Homo sapiens: one gene and its partners. The protein of the gene in region 4 purifies or fractionates together with the protein of the main gene of each other region. This does not show direct contact. Each region holds a gene or a part of one and is shown on either strand. Other genes may lie near its edges.

Region 1 (4,329 bases), on a different chromosome or scaffold from region 4:
AGTTGGGCCAGAGAACAAGCTGTTTTCTGCTGAGCTGGCGAGATGGGCCAGGGCAGAAAGCCAGGAAAAACAAGCTGCCTGCCACCCCCTCCTGTCCTCGTCCTCCGGGAAGTTTCACTTTAAACCAAGCCAGATGAGGGCTGGGCAGGCAGCGGGGACACGGTTAACTGTGTATGTGCTGGTGGCGGGAAGGCCTGGGTGTCCTATGAGGTCTGCTGGGCCCCACCTCCCCCGACCCCCTCCCCGCCCCACAGTCTGAGGATCAAGAGGCCAGGAGATGCCCCTTTAGAGAGAAGAGGCAGAATCTGGAGCGCTGACTTTGAATCCCAGGCAGGGATCCACAAACGTTTCTCTTCCTGGACACCTACTGTGCACCCAGCACTGTGGACTCAGAAATGAGGGAGCCCCAGCCCTTCCAGGGCCCACAGCCGGGCAGGGGGGAAACATGAGCGCTACGCTCAGGCCGTGACCGCCTATTCCGTACACACTTGTAGAGAGTGTTTAGTATGTGTGGGCATCTGGCCATCCATTCTACACATGCTTGTGAAGTACCTACTATGTGCTGGTGTCGCCTGGCCTCTGGTGGTTCTGCTTGGTAGGGGAGCGCAGTGGGGGGTGAAGCACAGCCTTCATCTATCTACTGAACAAAGAGAAGCACCTACTATGCGCCAGGTGCAAGGTAATCCTTCCAGTGGGGATACGACGTGGGCCTGTGGGGTGTGCCCGCCACAGCCCACTGGCCTGGAGGACCTCCTGCTGCCTGCTCAGGACCTGCTGGCATGGGCTGGGCCTGGGGAGGGTGCCACCTTCTCATTCACATAAAATGGCCTTGCAGGGGGTGGGGGCTCTGGAGACAAGAGCCTGGGTCTGGGGTGTGTGTGGGACGGGGCGGGACCCACCTTCCCGGCTGCTCTGGGTACTTGTGCTTGCAGTAGGCCTCCAAGGACGCATAGACCTTCTCCCTCAGCGCCTCCACCTCGGCCGGGTTCGAGAGCCCCTTGGAGTCTGAAAGGAAGAAGCCACAGGTCAGAACCCTCAGCTGGGGCGTGTCTCGGGCACCTGCCCCCAGGACCCAGGCTTGTGTGGGGTCTCCCAGGCTGCCCCACCATGGGCAGAGCAGGTGGTGGAGGAATGCCGCTGGACATGCCTCCGCCCGCTCCCCCAGAGCCTGGTGGCAGGGGGACGACTGTGGAACCCACGGCCAGGCCAGGCTGCTCTGGGTCCAGGCTCAGCTCTGCCACTTGCCAGCCACGTGACCTTGGGTCAACTATTTGACCTCCAGAGACTCGGTTTCCCCATCGATAAAGTGTCAGGGATCTGCTGCCTTCCTTCCAGCCGCCTTGGGAACTGGGAGAGACAATGGATGCTGCTGCTGCCCTTGGGTCCCAGCCCCATAACATGGATGGGAGATAGCGCTGCTGCCCCCAGGAGTACCCAGACCCTGCGGAAACCCATCCTCGGTGTGCTTGCGGAGTCCTGAGCTCAGGACCCGGGCTCAAGAGCCTAGAGTGGACAGAGAGGCTAAGATTGCAGCCACCAAAACCTCCAAGGCCCAGGGACCCCCTGTGAATGCCACCTTGGCCCCCAAGGCCCAGGGACCCCCTGTGAATGCCACCTTGGCCTGTGTCCTGGGCTCCTTGGCAACGTACCTGGCTCCCCCAGCTGCCTCCGCTCCAGCCAGTCTCCTCGCCCTCCCTGCATGCCTGTGCCCTGGTCTCTTCGCTTTCCCTGCAAGCCTGTGCCTGGACCCTGCTTGTGCCAGACAATCTCACCCTCCCTGCAAGCCGGTGCCCAGGTCCTGCTGGTGCCCCAGCTCTAGCAACCAGACCACACAGGACCTGAATGGGGATTCCTCGGGCCGGGCCGGGCCGTGGCATGACTCAGCCTCCGAGCTGGCAGGATTACGGCCCGGATGCACAGCCTGGGTGATAAAATGACCCTGGAAACAAGCTCTCCCCACAAGAAGATGCCCATCTCCATCCCGGCCCGGTCCCTCAGAGCCAGGTCTGACAAAGGGCAAGGTCAGAAGGTCAGGGCCAGGAGCCGAGAGGGCTCCACTCCCTCCACCATAGCCCAAGTGAGCTCCCCACAGCAGCCCCAAACCTCTCCCTCCACACCCCAGCCACCTGCCCCTATCACGCAATGAGCTGAGTTTCCAAACACAGAAACCCATAGCTCCCTCCCGGCTGGAACCCCTCAGGACTTGGCTCCCTGTGGCCCCAAGAAAAAACCCAAACTTAGCAAGACTTTCAAGGCCCTGCCTGGGCTGCCTCCACCAGCCCACCCCACCTCCGTGCCTCTCACTCCCCTGGCCCCTAACTTGCAGCTCCCGGAGGAAGTGGCCCGCACCCTCGACCAACCGTGCTCCTGCCCTCACGTGCCGGGGGTGCCTGCTGGTGGGCGTGACCCTCTAAACCCCAAGCTCTAGGCAGGCAAGCCCTATCCAGCAGCTTGAAGGGGCCCTCCCATGCCAGCAGGGCACCGAGCAAACAGGCACGTGTCAGCACTTGTTGGGCGAAGGAGTAGCACCTAGGAGGCTTTTCAAGCCGAGAACCCAGAGGCTGGAGAAGGGCCGCACTGTCGGCCAGGAGGCCTGTGCCCAGCCCCAGCCCCACAGCCCCAAGCCCTGCTCTCCTCAACCACAGGGGCCCAGCCCCAGAAACACCCTGGACCCGAGGCTTGGGGATGAGGTTGGTCCCCTCTGGAACACCCGGCAGGCCTGACCCATCCCCAGCCTGCAGGGCTTGGGACTCCTGAACTTCAGCACCGGAAGTTCACAACCACAGCTGGCCACTTTCGGAGTCTGGATTCCGACGCACAGTGATGAACACTATGAACCGCGGAGCCCAGACGGCACCACCAAGCCCCTCATGACAACTGCCTTGCTGGGTCCCCCTGTGCCCAGGGACCATGCCCCCTTGGCTGGCCCTCAAGGTGAGCAGAAGGCAGCATGGCCACACTTTCACTGGGAGGGGGGCACACTGAGCTCAAGGAGGGTGGGAGTTGGCCCCACATGTAGCCAGAGGCAAGAAGTACAGCCAGGAGGAGGCCCAGGCACCTCTGCCCCACCAGAGAACGGGGCCAGAAGCCTCAAGGCAGGAAGGCCATACCAGGGTTAAAGAGGACGATGGCGCGCAGGCAGCCCAGCTCCGTCTTGTCCATCTGCATGTCCCGCATCTTGGACACAAGCTCCGTCAGCACCCTGCAGAGGAGGAGGGCAGACACCCCATCCCAGTTAGGTCGCAGCCCTCACCAGGGCCACACCCCAGATACCCAAGGCCTCTGGAGAGCCCGGCGTGGCCCGAGGGCCGCTGAGATGGGCCAAGCCAAGGCAAGGACTCCCAGACACCCCGAGAGGGAGTGGGCTGGAACCCAGGCCCAGGTGCCGCCCCTGCCAGGCCTGCCTGGCCCTGCCCGGAGGGTGGGCTCCTCTCCTCTCCCTCTAGGGTCTGCCTGCGGGGCTTTATTCTGGGAACCGAGGTGCTAAGGAGGGGCCTCGTGACAGCTAAACTGAGGTGAGCCGCAGCTGCACAGAGGGCACAGAGTCCACCCCTCCCGAACCCAGTGAGACACACCACTGTCCCTCCTCAGCTGTGGACCCAGCACCACCTGAGGCAAAGCCCCTTCCCATGCCACAGCCCCAGCCGCTCCCTTCAGTCCAGGAAGATACCTTTCCCCAGGGCCTGGTGTCCCTGGGTGGGGGCTGCCAGAGGGAGGCATGTCTACTTCTTGTCACCAGAGAAAAAAAATCCACCAGCCTCAACACGGGGAAAGCCCGCCAGCTCCCTCCATGGAGACGCTGGGGGCGTTCTTGGATTCAGACTCAGCTGCCCCAGCCCTGCAGCTGGATTCTGAATCACACCAGCCTCTGCAGTGTACTGGGCCCCCTAGCCTCAGCAGCCTGCCCACCAACCCCAAAGCTCAACTGCTGTGTCCAGGAAGTAAGGGTGGGCCACAGCGGGGGAAAGGAGGTGACCAGGTGGGGATGGTTGCCTAAGGAGCCTGGGCTCTCCCCTGTGGGCCAAGGGCGGCCCTGAGGGTCTGCAGAATGGGGAGTGCCCTGGTTGATTCCTGGAAGAAGATCTGAAGGAGGCTGGAGAACAGGGTGGGACAGAACAGGAGCTGGGAGGGACCCCCGATGTCTGCTCTGAGGCAGGAGCACACAGCTGCAGAGGGATGGGGCAGCGGGCATGGAAAAGACCTGGGCCACTGAGGGCAGACTTTGCATTCCACTCGCAAAAAAGGCGAGGAAATGCCGGGGCCTCTGTAGTCACTGCTGTGGGACCCCAGAGAATGTAACCCTGAAACCTCTGTCATCGCCATCTCTCT
Region 2 (4,329 bases), on a different chromosome or scaffold from region 4:
TACTCTATGGCAATCTCCACACATTTGGGACTGAACAACATAATCCACCACAAACACTTGTTGAAGGATAGCACCATTCATCACCTGATAAAACAATTACACTCCTTCATTCTTTTGGTTTTGTTTAATAACAAATATTTTCTTTAAAGAAGAACCTTTAATATTTAATTTAAAACTTTTTCCATTAATGCTTTGAGGACATCAATCAAATGTCCTCAAATTTAAAGTCATAAAAACAAGTTATACTATTTCAAGAACGGTATACAGATTTAATTCCTAAGATTTATTAGATTAGCATTTCAAATTTTCCTTTAGCTGAAGTGGTTGTGAGAATATTCTGTGTATATTTTACATATATATATATATATATAATTTTTTTTGAGACAGGGTCTCACTCTGCCTGTTGCCCAGCCTGGAGTACAGTGGCACGATCTTGGTTCACTGCAACTTCTGCCTCCTGGGCTCAAGTGATTCTCCACCTCAGCCTCCCAAGTAGCACACACCACCACGTCCAGCTAACTTTTGTATTTTTAGTAGAGATGGGGTCTCGAACTCCAGGGCTCAAGTGATCTGCCTACCTTGGCCTCCCAAAGTGCTGGGATCACAGGTGTGAGCCACCATGCCCAGCCTATACATGTTTACATAGAAAAATCATCCTTAGAAGAAAAAAATAAGGAAAACTTCTCAAAAAAAAAATTCCTTAATTTAATGATTCCCAAACATAACTGATCAGAAATCACATGGGAAGCTTTTTAAATACAGATTGAACATTCCAAATCCAAAAACCCAGAATCTGAAATTTCAGCTTCAAAATCTGAAACTTCTTGAGTTTCTAAATGACACTCAAAGAAAATGTTCACTGGAACATTTTGTATTTGAATTAGGGATGTTCAACCAGTTAAGTATAATGCAAAATTCCAAAATCCAAAAAATCCAAAATCTGAAACACTTCTTGTCCCAAGCATTTCAGATAAGGGATACTCAACCTACTTATAGATTCCCGGCCTCACATACAGAGAATTTTTGCTTCAGTTATGATGAGTCATTACAATGATCAGCCAAGTTTGAGGATCAGTACCTTAGACCATGTTTTTACTTCAATCCTTTCCTAATAAAAATAACTCTGGAAAAGTAAGTCTGCTAATCAGAAGCAATGACTACTCTTACTAGTGATCTAATTATTTGTACAGATGCTCAAAAGAAAACAAACAGCTAAAATTGAGTGTACTCTTTTTCTTTTAAGCTGTTCAAGCCATAAAATAACTTATCACTGGGTCTTCATTTTCACTACCTGCACTTTAACCATGCTGAGAAAATTATGTACTGCTTACCTCTTTCTGAATAGTCAGTTTAACTTTAAGTCTCTTAGAATGAGGCTCAGTCCAAACAAAGCCTGCATCTACAAGCCGTACCTTCAATAAAACACAAACAAAAAGAAACGTAAGTTCTCACCTAGGAGGAAAAAAAACACGAAAGAACAAATCATCAATAAGCAGATTTCATAAGATGCTTAAGGAATCTGTGATCAGCATACTACACACCATCATCACAAAAAAAGATTAATCATTGGTTACGTAACAACAGCAGCAAATCAAAGGACAACCCAATGACTATATTAATGCAACTGATATAATTTAAGCAAAAATTAAAGTATTTGCATAGGAAAAAAATTCTTTTCCCTTAAAAAAAAAAAAAAAGTACATTGTCCTTTAAAAGGAAATTATATTTTTTGGAGGAAAGCAAAGACCTTGTGACCTCATTATTTATTAGTAACCTCATGAACAAAAGTTTCCACTTGGATTATTCTCTCTATATTCTGTGACTTTTTTTAAGAAGTGACATTGATTAGAGAAGTTGCATGCACTGAATACTAAATCCACAACTATAACTCACTACTAAATCTGCAGCATCTGCATAGGCCAAAACAGTTTGCTATATGTGAAGATCTGAATATAACTCAAGAATGGCCAGAATGGGTGTTTGGGGAGAAGGGGTGGGTGGGAGAACAAGAATGGAGGCTGCTGTAATAACCTGGGCCAGATTGTAGATGATCTGAACTGAGAGGCACTGGAAATAACAAAAGCAGATGCAAGGGCTAGTTAGGAGATAAAAATCTGTAAGATTTATCTGCACAGTCCAAGTGATGCAGAAAAAAAATCTGTAAGATTTAATGGTAACTGGATATGGAAAAGAGGAAGAGAACAGACTCCAGAATGATGCTCAAGTATTTGCTTAGACAACTAGGCAGTACACTTTTTGTGACTACCTATACCGAAATAAACAATGGATATAATGAGAAAAAGATGTTACATTTGATTTCAGACATTTCAGTTTAAGACAGTATCTGTGAGATACCCAAGAGGACTTTTCAGTGAACAGTAAGATACAATTGGTCTGGAGATCTATAAAAAAATTTGGGCTGCAGTTAACAGATTTGAGAGGTATCAGCAGCAGATTATACTTTTATCAAGCACTGTCTGGTAAAAAGTAGACTGGCCACTTTTAGTGTAGATGCAAAGATTCAACACACCAGAGTAAAACCCTCCTCATATAGCTGGCCTCCCTAAAACAAAGCCTAGTAGTTAACAAGTGATGCCAGGTACACAGGGTGATAGGCAGATTCCTATTCCTTCAATCTCCATCAGCAGTGGTTAAAAAAAAAAAAAAAAAAAAAGCCCCAAAGGCACTGAATAAGACTGATCTTCCCCTCAAGCTCCAACCTCCACCTGCAGGAATGGAGAGTCTCCTTGACATCCTGCTCGGCATTCCCCAACACAACCACTGCACTATGTGTCCTCAGACAACCATGACTAATCAACTTTATTAGTCCCTTTCTTTCTTTACCATAGTCCCAGACACCTCAGTCACCCCTATTTCCCATACTCCAATTTCCATATGGTTATGCATATTCCCTATTCTGTCCCCATCTAACACTCCTCCCCGAATCCTAAAACCCTTCTACTGTGCCCTCCGGAGCTCAACATTCATTAACAATGAAATCTCCTAAATCCTCAACTTTGCTGAACATTCCCTTCACCTTCTAGATCTCCTGATTTCTCTCTCCCCTGCAGCTATATAAAGTGATAACTGATTCTTCCTATCACTGGACCAGGCACCAGACAGCTATCGTCCTTGCTCTTCATTGCTAATTACAGACCATTCTCCTTGTCTCCTCCTCAAATATACCCAGCTCTAAGTCTAAAGTCATTAGACTCTACCACCCGCAACTCTCTTTTTTATAGTAATCTATTCATCTTTGTATCACTTGTTTTCATTTCTCAAAAGATTTTAGCTTCTGGCTCACCATCACACTTTCCAACAATATTAATACCTAGCGATTTCAATATCCACACAGGTGATCCCCACAATACCCTGACCTCTCACTCCATTCTTTGAGTTCTTCTTCTCCCAAAATATTATCCACCTTCCTATCTCAGTCACTCATATGCCTCTATTACCAGTAACTGCAAACCCTCCAAACTATCAATTCCAAACATCCTACTCCCTGACTACCACCTCCCATCTTTCCAGCTTATTTCCTCTAGTTCCTGGGCACCAAATATCTTTCAAGCTAATATAATGGACAATCCATTCATCCTACCAACTTTATTCCTCATTCCTCCTCACTAGCTTCAAAATCAATAATCAAAATTATTCTCATGTACACACTCAATTTCCTTGTTCCCTCTCTTATTTCACCTTAGCCACTAGGCTAAATTATAAATTTGGTTAAATCCAGTGCTCTGCCTGCTCTATGCCTTGACTATGTGGCTGACAGAACTACAGAAATAGATGCACACCACAGTGACTAGTCTAAACTTGTAACAGTAACCCTCAGCACTGCCCAGCACCCATCCAACACTGTCCTGGTGCATTTCCTCTAGTTCTAGAGGACTATTTCATATCTTCCGCTCTCTCCTCAAACATCTATCTAACAGCTCTTCCCACATAGCTACTGCCCACGCTTCTGTTTTCTCCAGTACAAAAGAAGGAACCAGAGGAGAATTCCCAGAAGCTCCCACTCAACACCTTCCCTGCTGTTACCACAGATGAATTATCCATACTCCCATCAAGATCAACCTCCAGAATGCCCCTCTAGAGAGCAGAGATCTTTACTTTGTTCCATGAAATATTACAGCCTCCCAAAATGGTGCTTGGTGAAGAGTAAGTGCTGAATACTTGTTGAATGAAGGAGTGAATTAACAAATAAATGTATTCTTTCACTATGTACTATATCTCTTTTCCACTTATTGAGGCCACCCCCCAGCCAATTATTCTTCTCCCTGCAATTTCACAAAAATTTCCCTCCGTACTCTAACACTCCCAGAG
Region 3 (4,329 bases), on a different chromosome or scaffold from region 4:
TTACTAACCCACTAACTCACAACACCAGATTCCTTTTAGGCGATAGGAGCCAAATCACTTTGCCAAAAGGATGCACCTTCCTGCAGTGTTTGATGGTTCCAGTTTATTCAGTTTACTTCAACACAATCAAATTCATATTGAGAACCTATTACAGATGTGCTAGGTATTAAAGGTCTATATATAATCATCTAATTCAAATTTATTTCATTTTTACTCCACTCTTGGTGTCATAATTTACCATACTTATGAAAACTTTTGAAATCTGGCTTGTAAGCTGCTTGCTATTTCAAATTTATATGGATGCTTTCACCTCTCCCCGCTTAACATTGAATACATGTCCTCCACTCTTTGCCAGCTTAGTTCTTTCTTTCCAATAATTTAGGTGCTTGGATGAGGTCCTTAGCCTAGGTTATTAAAAAGGAAGAGCTGAACAGATCTTATCAGAAGTTTGTTTCAGATTATCAGGAATATGGAATGAGGGTGAGATTTTAAAATACTCTTATGAACTTAAATAATTTTAAAATATATGCTCAATTGGATTATACTGTATCTTGTAAATTATAGAAGTAAATAATTCAAATTTTGTTATTTGCATAGAAAATAAACATCATTGATTGAGAAGGAAAAACAAACTGAAAAGTAAGCTTTCAGATTTCTCTCTCTTCCTGATTATCAAATAAACTCAAGTAATGTTGTCTAAATCAAAATATGAAACAACTTTTCAACAGAGACTTACGTCTTTTTCCTAAATCCTACCCTTTCCCACACAATTTTTTGAAGAACAGGATAATGGTAGCTCTATATATACAAATTATCTCTTTATTCTTCTACCTAAATGAGTGAATTTTGATATGAAAACAATAAACACATATAGAGAAAAAATAAATTAGTCTAACCTTTAAGAAAATATTCATAAAAAGCTCAAATTGCAACTAAATTTCCTAATCCAGGAAGACACATGCACAAATCACCATGGCTTTTCTAACTTAATGTATACTGGAGTCACTTATTCTACTAAGGACCCATATTTGAGGGTCTTACCATCTAACGAACTGATTACCATATACAACTGACTAGATGACGTGCAAGGCCAAACAGAATTAACTATAAATTCTGGTCTGCTGCCAACAGTATCTGCAGTTCCACATACTTAGTCTCTCTTAGTAATCACCCTTCTTTAAAGAGAAACTAAGATGAGCGCTGATGGAGGGGGGTGTCCAATGGTGTACAGTAAGTTTGAGACTCACCAGGAACTTATTTTACACTATGAGAAATGACATGAAGATAATGGCATTTTGAAGAATCCTAGCATTTCCTGAAAGGCTATGTAGCTATCTTGAGTCTATTTTCCATTTGTATTTCCCTTTCTTGATTCTTCTTTTTAAGTGGTTAGTTCCCTAATCTTGAAGTTCTCTACTTTCTTAAAATTATTTGTTGTTATTGTTGTTGCTTTAGTTTTTCCATTTTTCTGGAAATCCTGAACTGTATTAAGCTAGGGTTACCTTTGCAGACTTCCCCTCTAGATTTAGATAATCAACTAGCTTTTTAACCTAGTATAAATATCTACTCAACTAGACTAAATTTCCTGAGAACTAGGATCTCCAGTGTATGATAGATACATAGTAGGCACTAAATTATATCTGTTGTAAGAATGAATGAATTCAGTATCATTTAAAGGGTCTACACCTAATTTAATTAGTCTCCACATTTATCACCAAAAAGTAGCAGCTAGTAGAAATGATGAGTTTACTGAAGTGTCACAACAACCTGTTATGTTCCAGAGACTATGGCAGGCATTCACTTTATAGGATTATTACATAAGTTTCTGGCTTTAAAGAGTTCAGAGTCTATCAGGGAACCCAGATCAGTAAAAGAACAATGGAAATACCATTGATATTCATTGATAGAGTGATACCAGTGAAACTTAAAATAAAATTCAACATAAGTTTTATAACCTTAAACTGACAGATACCTGCATTTCTTCTGCACATGTTCATATCTGCAACCTGTCTCCATGCGTTAGTGGTGGGATCATATACTTCAACACTTTTTCGTACTAAAGGGCCATCATGACCTCCTACAGCATACAATAAATTGTTTAACACACCAACACCTATAAAACACAACCAGCCAAATAGAGGGGCAAAAAGAACAAGAGATTTATATCATATTAGGTTTATTTAAATGACTTGTAACTAAAACTTTCGAAGTTATAATTCATAATAAAAGCAAGCTGATACTATAGCCTACAATTTAAGAAATGGAAATCAATACAATTGATGATTAAATAAGCATCTCAACAAACTATTATTCTGAAAAAAGAGGCATGTCAAACAGAATAAAAATATTAATAACATGTAGGTGAAACACAGGGAGGGAAAAAGTCCTTTAATGTAATCCTTTTGAAAACAATATCCATAGTAAAATAACCGCATATTAAAGCACAAAATTTTAAGAAATATACATGAAAAGACTTGATTATTAAGCAAGTTCCCCAATAAGCACTAAAAACAAAAAACTAAAAGGAGTGCTAACAACTTGAATATATAAATGAAACAGAAATGTCTATGGCACTTAGACATTAAATTTTAAAGTAAAATTACTTTGTAATTACTCCCATTACCTGCACAATTCAAAAGACATTTAGCAGTGCCACTAAAATCAGCATATCATATATTTTCAGATAATGTAAAGTGATGCCACTGAATCATTTTACTTTAACTATTTTCCATCATTTTTGTGCTTCAGTTGCTAAAACAGGTTCACATGTACCTGCTCCACTCCGCCTGGTGCTCATTTCTGCTATATAGGTCCACTCATTTGTTGTAGCATTATAGCATTCTACTGTGCTAAGACACTGACGTGATGCTCCATCATAACCTCCTACAGCATAGAGCAAACCTACACATAAAATCACATAGAAAGCCAAATTTATTAAAAAACAAACAAACAAAAAACACTAATTTTTCAAGCCAGAAAATATTAATATATTTTCCTTCATGGCAGCAGAGTTTCCCCTTAAAGTGCTGCTGATTTTTATGAAATATATTAGGGTCTTGCCTAATGGTGACAGATGGGGTAATCAAATCATGTTATGAAGATCTGCAGGGTATAGCTGATGATGTTAATTTTATACTTTCATCAATAATCTGATAAAATAGCACACTCATTATATCTTTAGGTAACACTATTTGATAAGTGAACAACATCCTGTAAGACAGAATTAAATACCAAAGTTATCTTAGGAAATCGGAAAAAAGGTTAAATCAAAAATTAATAACAGAATGCAATGCAATATTACTTGGCATTAAAAAGGCATGAAGTACTAATAAATGCCTCAGTATAAATAAACAAATCTTGAAAACATCACCCTAAGCCAAAGAAGTGAGTCACCAAAGATCACATACTGTATGACTAAAATATTCAGAAGAGGCAAATCTCTAAGTGATAGAAAGTAGACTAGCAGTTGCTGAAGGTTGGGTAAGATACGAGTAAGAGCCAAGGGAAGCAGGATTGCTTTTAGAGGATAATAAAAATGTTTTAAAATGAATTGCAGTGATGGATGCACAATGAACTGTATACATGAAATGGGTGAATTGTATGATGTGGATTATATCACAATAAAGCTGTTTTTTTCTAAGTGCACAGATTACACCTACGATGAGGAGGGGGTGGAAACCTGCAAATTTGCCCAAGTCAATTAAAAAAAAATAATAATAATAATACTTAGAGCCTTCCTTAACTTCTGTTGGGAGACAAAGTAGGATATAAATAAATAACTGTGGCAATCCATCCCTTAACAGCCCTTCTCCAGATATAAAATTACACATTTATGTCACCTGAATTGTTCCCCCAAGCAACTGTTAAAATCAGTTGACAGTCTTATACAGCAGCAGTCCCCAAACCGCAGGCCATGGACCGGTACCTGTCTGGAACCTGTTAGGAACCGGGCTGCACAACAGGAGGTGAGCGGCAGGTGAGCAAGTATTACAGCTGAGCTCTACTTCCTGTCAGATCAGCAGCGGCATTAGATTCTCACAGAAGTGTGAACCCTATCTTGAAATGCACATTTGAGGGACCTAGGTTGTGCACTCCTTATGACACTCTAATGCCTGATGATCTGAGGTGGGAACAGTTTCATCCCAAAACCATCCCCCCAACCCACCCCTGTCCATGGAAAAATTGTCTTCCACAAAACCAGTCCCTAGTGCCAAAAAGGTTGGGGACTGCTGTTATATAAGTCAAACACACACGTGTTATATAAGTCAAACACACACAGTTATATAAGTCAAACACACACACACACACACACACACACACACACACACA
Region 4 (4,329 bases):
ATCCTGGAGGGAAGGAAATCCCACTGGTCCTTATGAACACAGGCAAAATTTTGCAACAACAAAAATGCCCTTATCAGATTGGCCATAGAATGCACCATTCTCTGGGTATGGGTGGACTGATGGAGCTGGAAGCTGCTGCTTCAGGTGGTAGACAAGACATAGGAGGTGTGAAATCACAGGGCAAGAGACAGCAGACTTCAGTGCTCAGGTGGGAAGGGAACCTAGGGCACTGAAGAGGCATCTGTGGGTTTCCTGGCCCAGGCCATCCTGAGACCCTTGTTTTCTTTGTTCCCACTGCACCCCTGGATTTGCCCCAACCCCACCCAGGATCAAGACAGATGGAGAGATGGTGACAGTGATTGGAGGATGAATGAGGACATGGAAGGCCACAGAGCTCAGACCCAGGCGGACCCTTAACCCCACTGCAAAGGCAAGGAAGAGACAATCCTTGTACAGACTCCAGCCAGTCCCACCCTCCCTGGGGACAGCCCCCACAACCCCCCTCGTTTGCTGGCCCGGCTAGCCTCAGAGGAAAACTAAACAAACCTAAGGGTAGGCCGTTTCTGGGAAAACAAAGGCACACAGGACACAGTGAATAAAGCTAGAGACATTCCCCGGCGGGGGCCGAGCAGAGCCAGCCCGGGCAGGGAGTGAGTTCCAAGGCTCAAGTTTCTCTTCGGCTGGATTTAAAACTTAATAATGAATGAAACAGACCGCAGGCTGCTGCGGGCAGGGGAGAGACAAACAAAAGCTCAGATTCGGCTCCGCTGACCTTGCTCTTGTAACCCCGAGGAAATAAACCACTGCCCCCGCCTCTCCAGCCGCCAGCCAGCCTGGCTGAGTCTTCAGAAGAGCCTCACAGACGTAACCCAGACGTAACCTTGGCCCAGAGGCAGCCCAGACCTTCAGGAAGGGATGGGGCAGGCGCACCATGCTCCCAGCACGGGTGAACACTGGCACACAGATGCGCATACACACGCCTACCTACATACACACACAACACCCACCATCACACACATTCATTCACACCATCACTCCCACACACTCACACTATCACTCACAAACTTAAATATACATGCACACGCTCATGTACACACATTCACCTGCAGACACACACACACACACATCACAGACCTGTGGTTTCCCTACAAGGCTCTCCACACAAGCTGCCTCTGCTGTCCCAGGCCGATCCTAAGACTTAAAGAGAGAACAAAGGCTGATTGGGGGGTCTTGAGGGGTCCCTCACAGCTGGGGCTGAGCCTGGTCCTAGGCCCCGCCCCCACCCCCTGGCCCCCGCAGCGCTGATTGTGTGAAGATCCACCTGACCCCCCTGGCACCATTGGCACAGCTCAACCGGGATGCATGCGGCTCTCCGAAGCTCGCAGTTCTCCAAAGCTCCCGACTGCAAGGCTTCCGGCAGCCAACCCACCTCTGAAGCCCAGCTCCCCAGCCCAGCTCAAGGGGCCTCCTGGAACACCCTCCCAGAGCACCAGCACCTTCTCCCCCGGGGGCCTCACATGACGGGCTCGGCAGACGGGAAGGATGCAGCAGTCGTGGCCAGCTCCCCAGATGAGATGCAGTGGGAGGCGCCCCAGCCCCTGCCTGCCAATTCCCAGCTCTTGCCAGCTGGGCTCTCTGGGGCACAGACAAAAGGGACCCCAGGGAGGAGATGGCTGGGGCCAGGGGACCTACTCGGCCCCCGCTCCAGGCCAGGCTGGACTGGCTTCTTATTATTTTGATGTCTTCACTCAGACTCACTCAAACTGCCACTGAGCCCTTCCTGTGTGCCCAGCACTCAGTGCTAAGTGCTTTCTCACAACTGCAAATGAGTGGCCAGGTCCACTCCCACTGGACAGACGAGGAAACTGAGGCACGGCCTCAGAGACTTGCTCTGGGAAATGACAGTGCCAGAGACTGATGCCAGGACTGTCCACATTCAGGCCCCTTGATCGTGATGTGGGCCTGGACCAGCTTCTGGGGGCCAAACAGTCAAATAAGACCACTCCTGCGTGGGTAAGAAGGGGAGAGGCCCACGTGTAAAGCCTCCAGGGTCCTCAGGACTTGATCTCCTTGGAGCCTGCCTTGTGAAGAGGGCTGGGGCTGGCCCATGATTTGCATTTCTGGGAGGGGCTCATCAGGGTTCAGAGAGACACAGGAACTGGCTGGAACCCACCCAGCAACTGATGTGTGGAGAAGTCTCAACAACTGGGCAGGTGAAACCACTATCACTCTTGTCCCTAGGACAAGCCTGAACAGATATTTCTGCCAGGGTTCATTTGCTCCTAAACCTTTCACACCACCTGAAGACCAGAAGACACTCACTCAGAGCCAGAGCCCTCCCAGCTCCTCTATGAATTCATCCATGCCCTGAACATTCCTCTTAACCACTCACTTTACGCATCTGAAAAAAGGGAATCACTGGGAGGAGTGGATGAGAAAAACTAATGGGAGAAAGCACTATTATGCCACTGACATGAGATGTCCAGAATAAGGCGCATCTGAGACAGAAGGCAGGTTAGCAGCTGTCCGAGGCTGGAGATGGGAGCAGGGACTGGCTGCACAGGTGACAGGGATCCTTCTGACATGAGGGAAATGGTCTAAAACTAGACTGTGGGTGAAGACTGCACAGCTCTGTAAACTTACCAAAGACTGGCTGAGTTGCTCACTTCAAACAAGTGAATTTTATGGTATGCAAATTATACTTCAATAAAGTTGTTAAACAAAAGCACTATTTTGCCAATAATAAGAATTAGTACTAATTAGTGCCACAAGTGCTAACAATATTAACAGCTCCATTTATTGAGAATGTCCCACGTGCCAGCACTGTGCTAAGTATGTCTATTATCGCAATTAATTTCTATTCATCCTCACAACAACCATATCTGGCTGTCTGCAGTAACATTCCCATTTCTGAGATGAGGAAGTGGGGTTCAGGGAGGTGAGGAACTGGCCCCCAGTACCAAGCCAGATGCCCCATTTAGTGTCTGGCCAAACTTCATCCTGTAGGAGTACAGAACCTGGTCCCGAGGCCCCACATCAGTCATTCACCCAGTAGGCTTTGAAAAGGAGAATCTTAACCTGCCCGGCACCAGAGTACCCAAGGTTCATTGCAGGCTGGCTGCTTGGCTTTATTTTTCTGCAAACAAGTTTTGAAACTAAAGCAAAGCGTATTATTCTGGGAGCAACAAGCTGAGCCACTGCTGAGATTATAATCATCTGAATTGAAATGAAAATAAGGCTCCTTAAACTGAAAAGGCCCAATCAGGGAAAATGGGCATGTTGACATATAAAGTCCCAAACTCAGATTGCCCTGTTTAAAGTCTTTTATTCAAAGAACATTCAACCTCGCCTGCTGCCATCCCACCCCCTCCAAATGCATTTTGCTTTGGGGGGACTTAGCTCAGTGCTCTAGAAACAGGCTAGAGAGATAAGCTAGGGCCAAAGCTCGGGATGTATCTACAGGGGCGTCAGCAGAGAAAGCGGTTCTCTTTTCTTTTTTTTTTTTTTTTTTTTTTTGGCAGGGGCAGGAGGGGAAGGAGTCTCGCCCTGTGGCCCAGGCCAGAGTGCAGTGGTGTGATCTCGGCTCACTGCAACCTCTGCCTCCCAGGTTCAAGCAATTCTCCTTCCTCATCCTCTCATGTAGCTGGGATTACAGGCACATGTCACCATGCCCGGCTAATTTTTGTATTTTTAGTAGAGACAGGGTTTCACCATGTTGGCCAGGCTGGTCTCGAACTCCTGACCTCAAGTGATCCACCCGCCTCAGCCTCCCAAAGTGCTGGGATTACAGGTGTGAGTCACTGCGCCTGGCCCAAGGTTCTCCTCTCTTATAGCAATGACACTTTCCTCATGCTGGATGCTGGACACCACACACACACCTGCAACTGTGGCCAAGGCAATCCCAAAGTCCCCTCCAACATGAACATTCCAGAATTCAGGAAGAAGGTGGGTTCAAGGAAAGTCCTGTTCAGTCGCTACATTTTTATTTTCAAGTAAATACTTGCATCGATTTTGCTGTGTGCCAGGCATTCTTCTAAGAGTTAATGTGTACTCACTCATTCAATCCTCTCAATAGGCTAATGAGTTAGGGACTGTTATAATTTCCATTTACAGATGAGAAAACCAGGGCACAGAGCGACTGAGTGACTTGCCCAGTGCCACACAGCCAGCAGGCAGCAGAGTCAGGATGTGAACCCCCCCTTAGTCCTGTTCAGTCAGTGTTTTCACCCACAAGGCTTCACTACCCCCCACCCCCCACTTTGGGAGGAGAAGCATGAGAAAATCAAGTGGGAAGTACAATGACTAATGACAGACCCATGCTTCCCCTGC

What was found.
Region 1: the proteins of ZNF423 (region 4) and RXRA purify together in Homo sapiens (pull-down; one study listed by IntAct). This does not show direct contact.
Region 2: the proteins of ZNF423 (region 4) and NMD3 purify together in Homo sapiens (affinity purification with mass spectrometry; one large-scale study listed by BioGRID and IntAct). This does not show direct contact.
Region 3: the proteins of ZNF423 (region 4) and KLHL2 purify together in Homo sapiens (affinity purification with mass spectrometry; one large-scale study listed by BioGRID and IntAct). This does not show direct contact.

What each region holds. Positions count from the first base shown.
Region 1 is NC_000009.12:134,430,778-134,435,106, reverse strand, and holds part of RXRA (retinoic acid receptor RXR-alpha), read right to left. Parts: intron 3,203-4,329; coding exon 3,111-3,202; intron 1,006-3,110; coding exon 900-1,005; intron 1-899. UniProt on the Homo sapiens protein: Receptor for retinoic acid that acts as a transcription factor.
Region 2 is NC_000003.12:161,230,482-161,234,810, reverse strand, and holds part of NMD3 (60S ribosomal export protein NMD3), read right to left. Parts: intron 1,413-4,329; coding exon 1,332-1,412; intron 85-1,331; coding exon 1-84. UniProt on the Homo sapiens protein: Acts as an adapter for the XPO1/CRM1-mediated export of the 60S ribosomal subunit.
Region 3 is NC_000004.12:165,311,810-165,316,138, reverse strand, and holds part of KLHL2 (kelch-like protein 2), read right to left. Parts: intron 3,211-4,329; coding exon of another isoform or gene 3,188-3,210; exon of another isoform or gene 3,063-3,187; intron 2,902-3,062; coding exon 2,773-2,901; intron 2,114-2,772; coding exon 1,973-2,113; intron 1-1,972. UniProt on the Homo sapiens protein: Substrate-specific adapter of a BCR (BTB-CUL3-RBX1) E3 ubiquitin ligase complex that mediates the ubiquitination of target proteins, such as NPTXR, WNK1, WNK3 and WNK4, leading most often to their proteasomal degradation.
Region 4 is NC_000016.10:49,639,309-49,643,637, forward strand, and holds part of ZNF423 (zinc finger protein 423), read right to left. Parts: intron 1,193-4,329; exon of another isoform or gene 1,135-1,192; intron 1-1,134. UniProt on the Homo sapiens protein: Transcription factor that can both act as an activator or a repressor depending on the context. Plays a central role in BMP signaling and olfactory neurogenesis. Associates with SMADs in response to BMP2 leading to activate transcription of BMP target genes.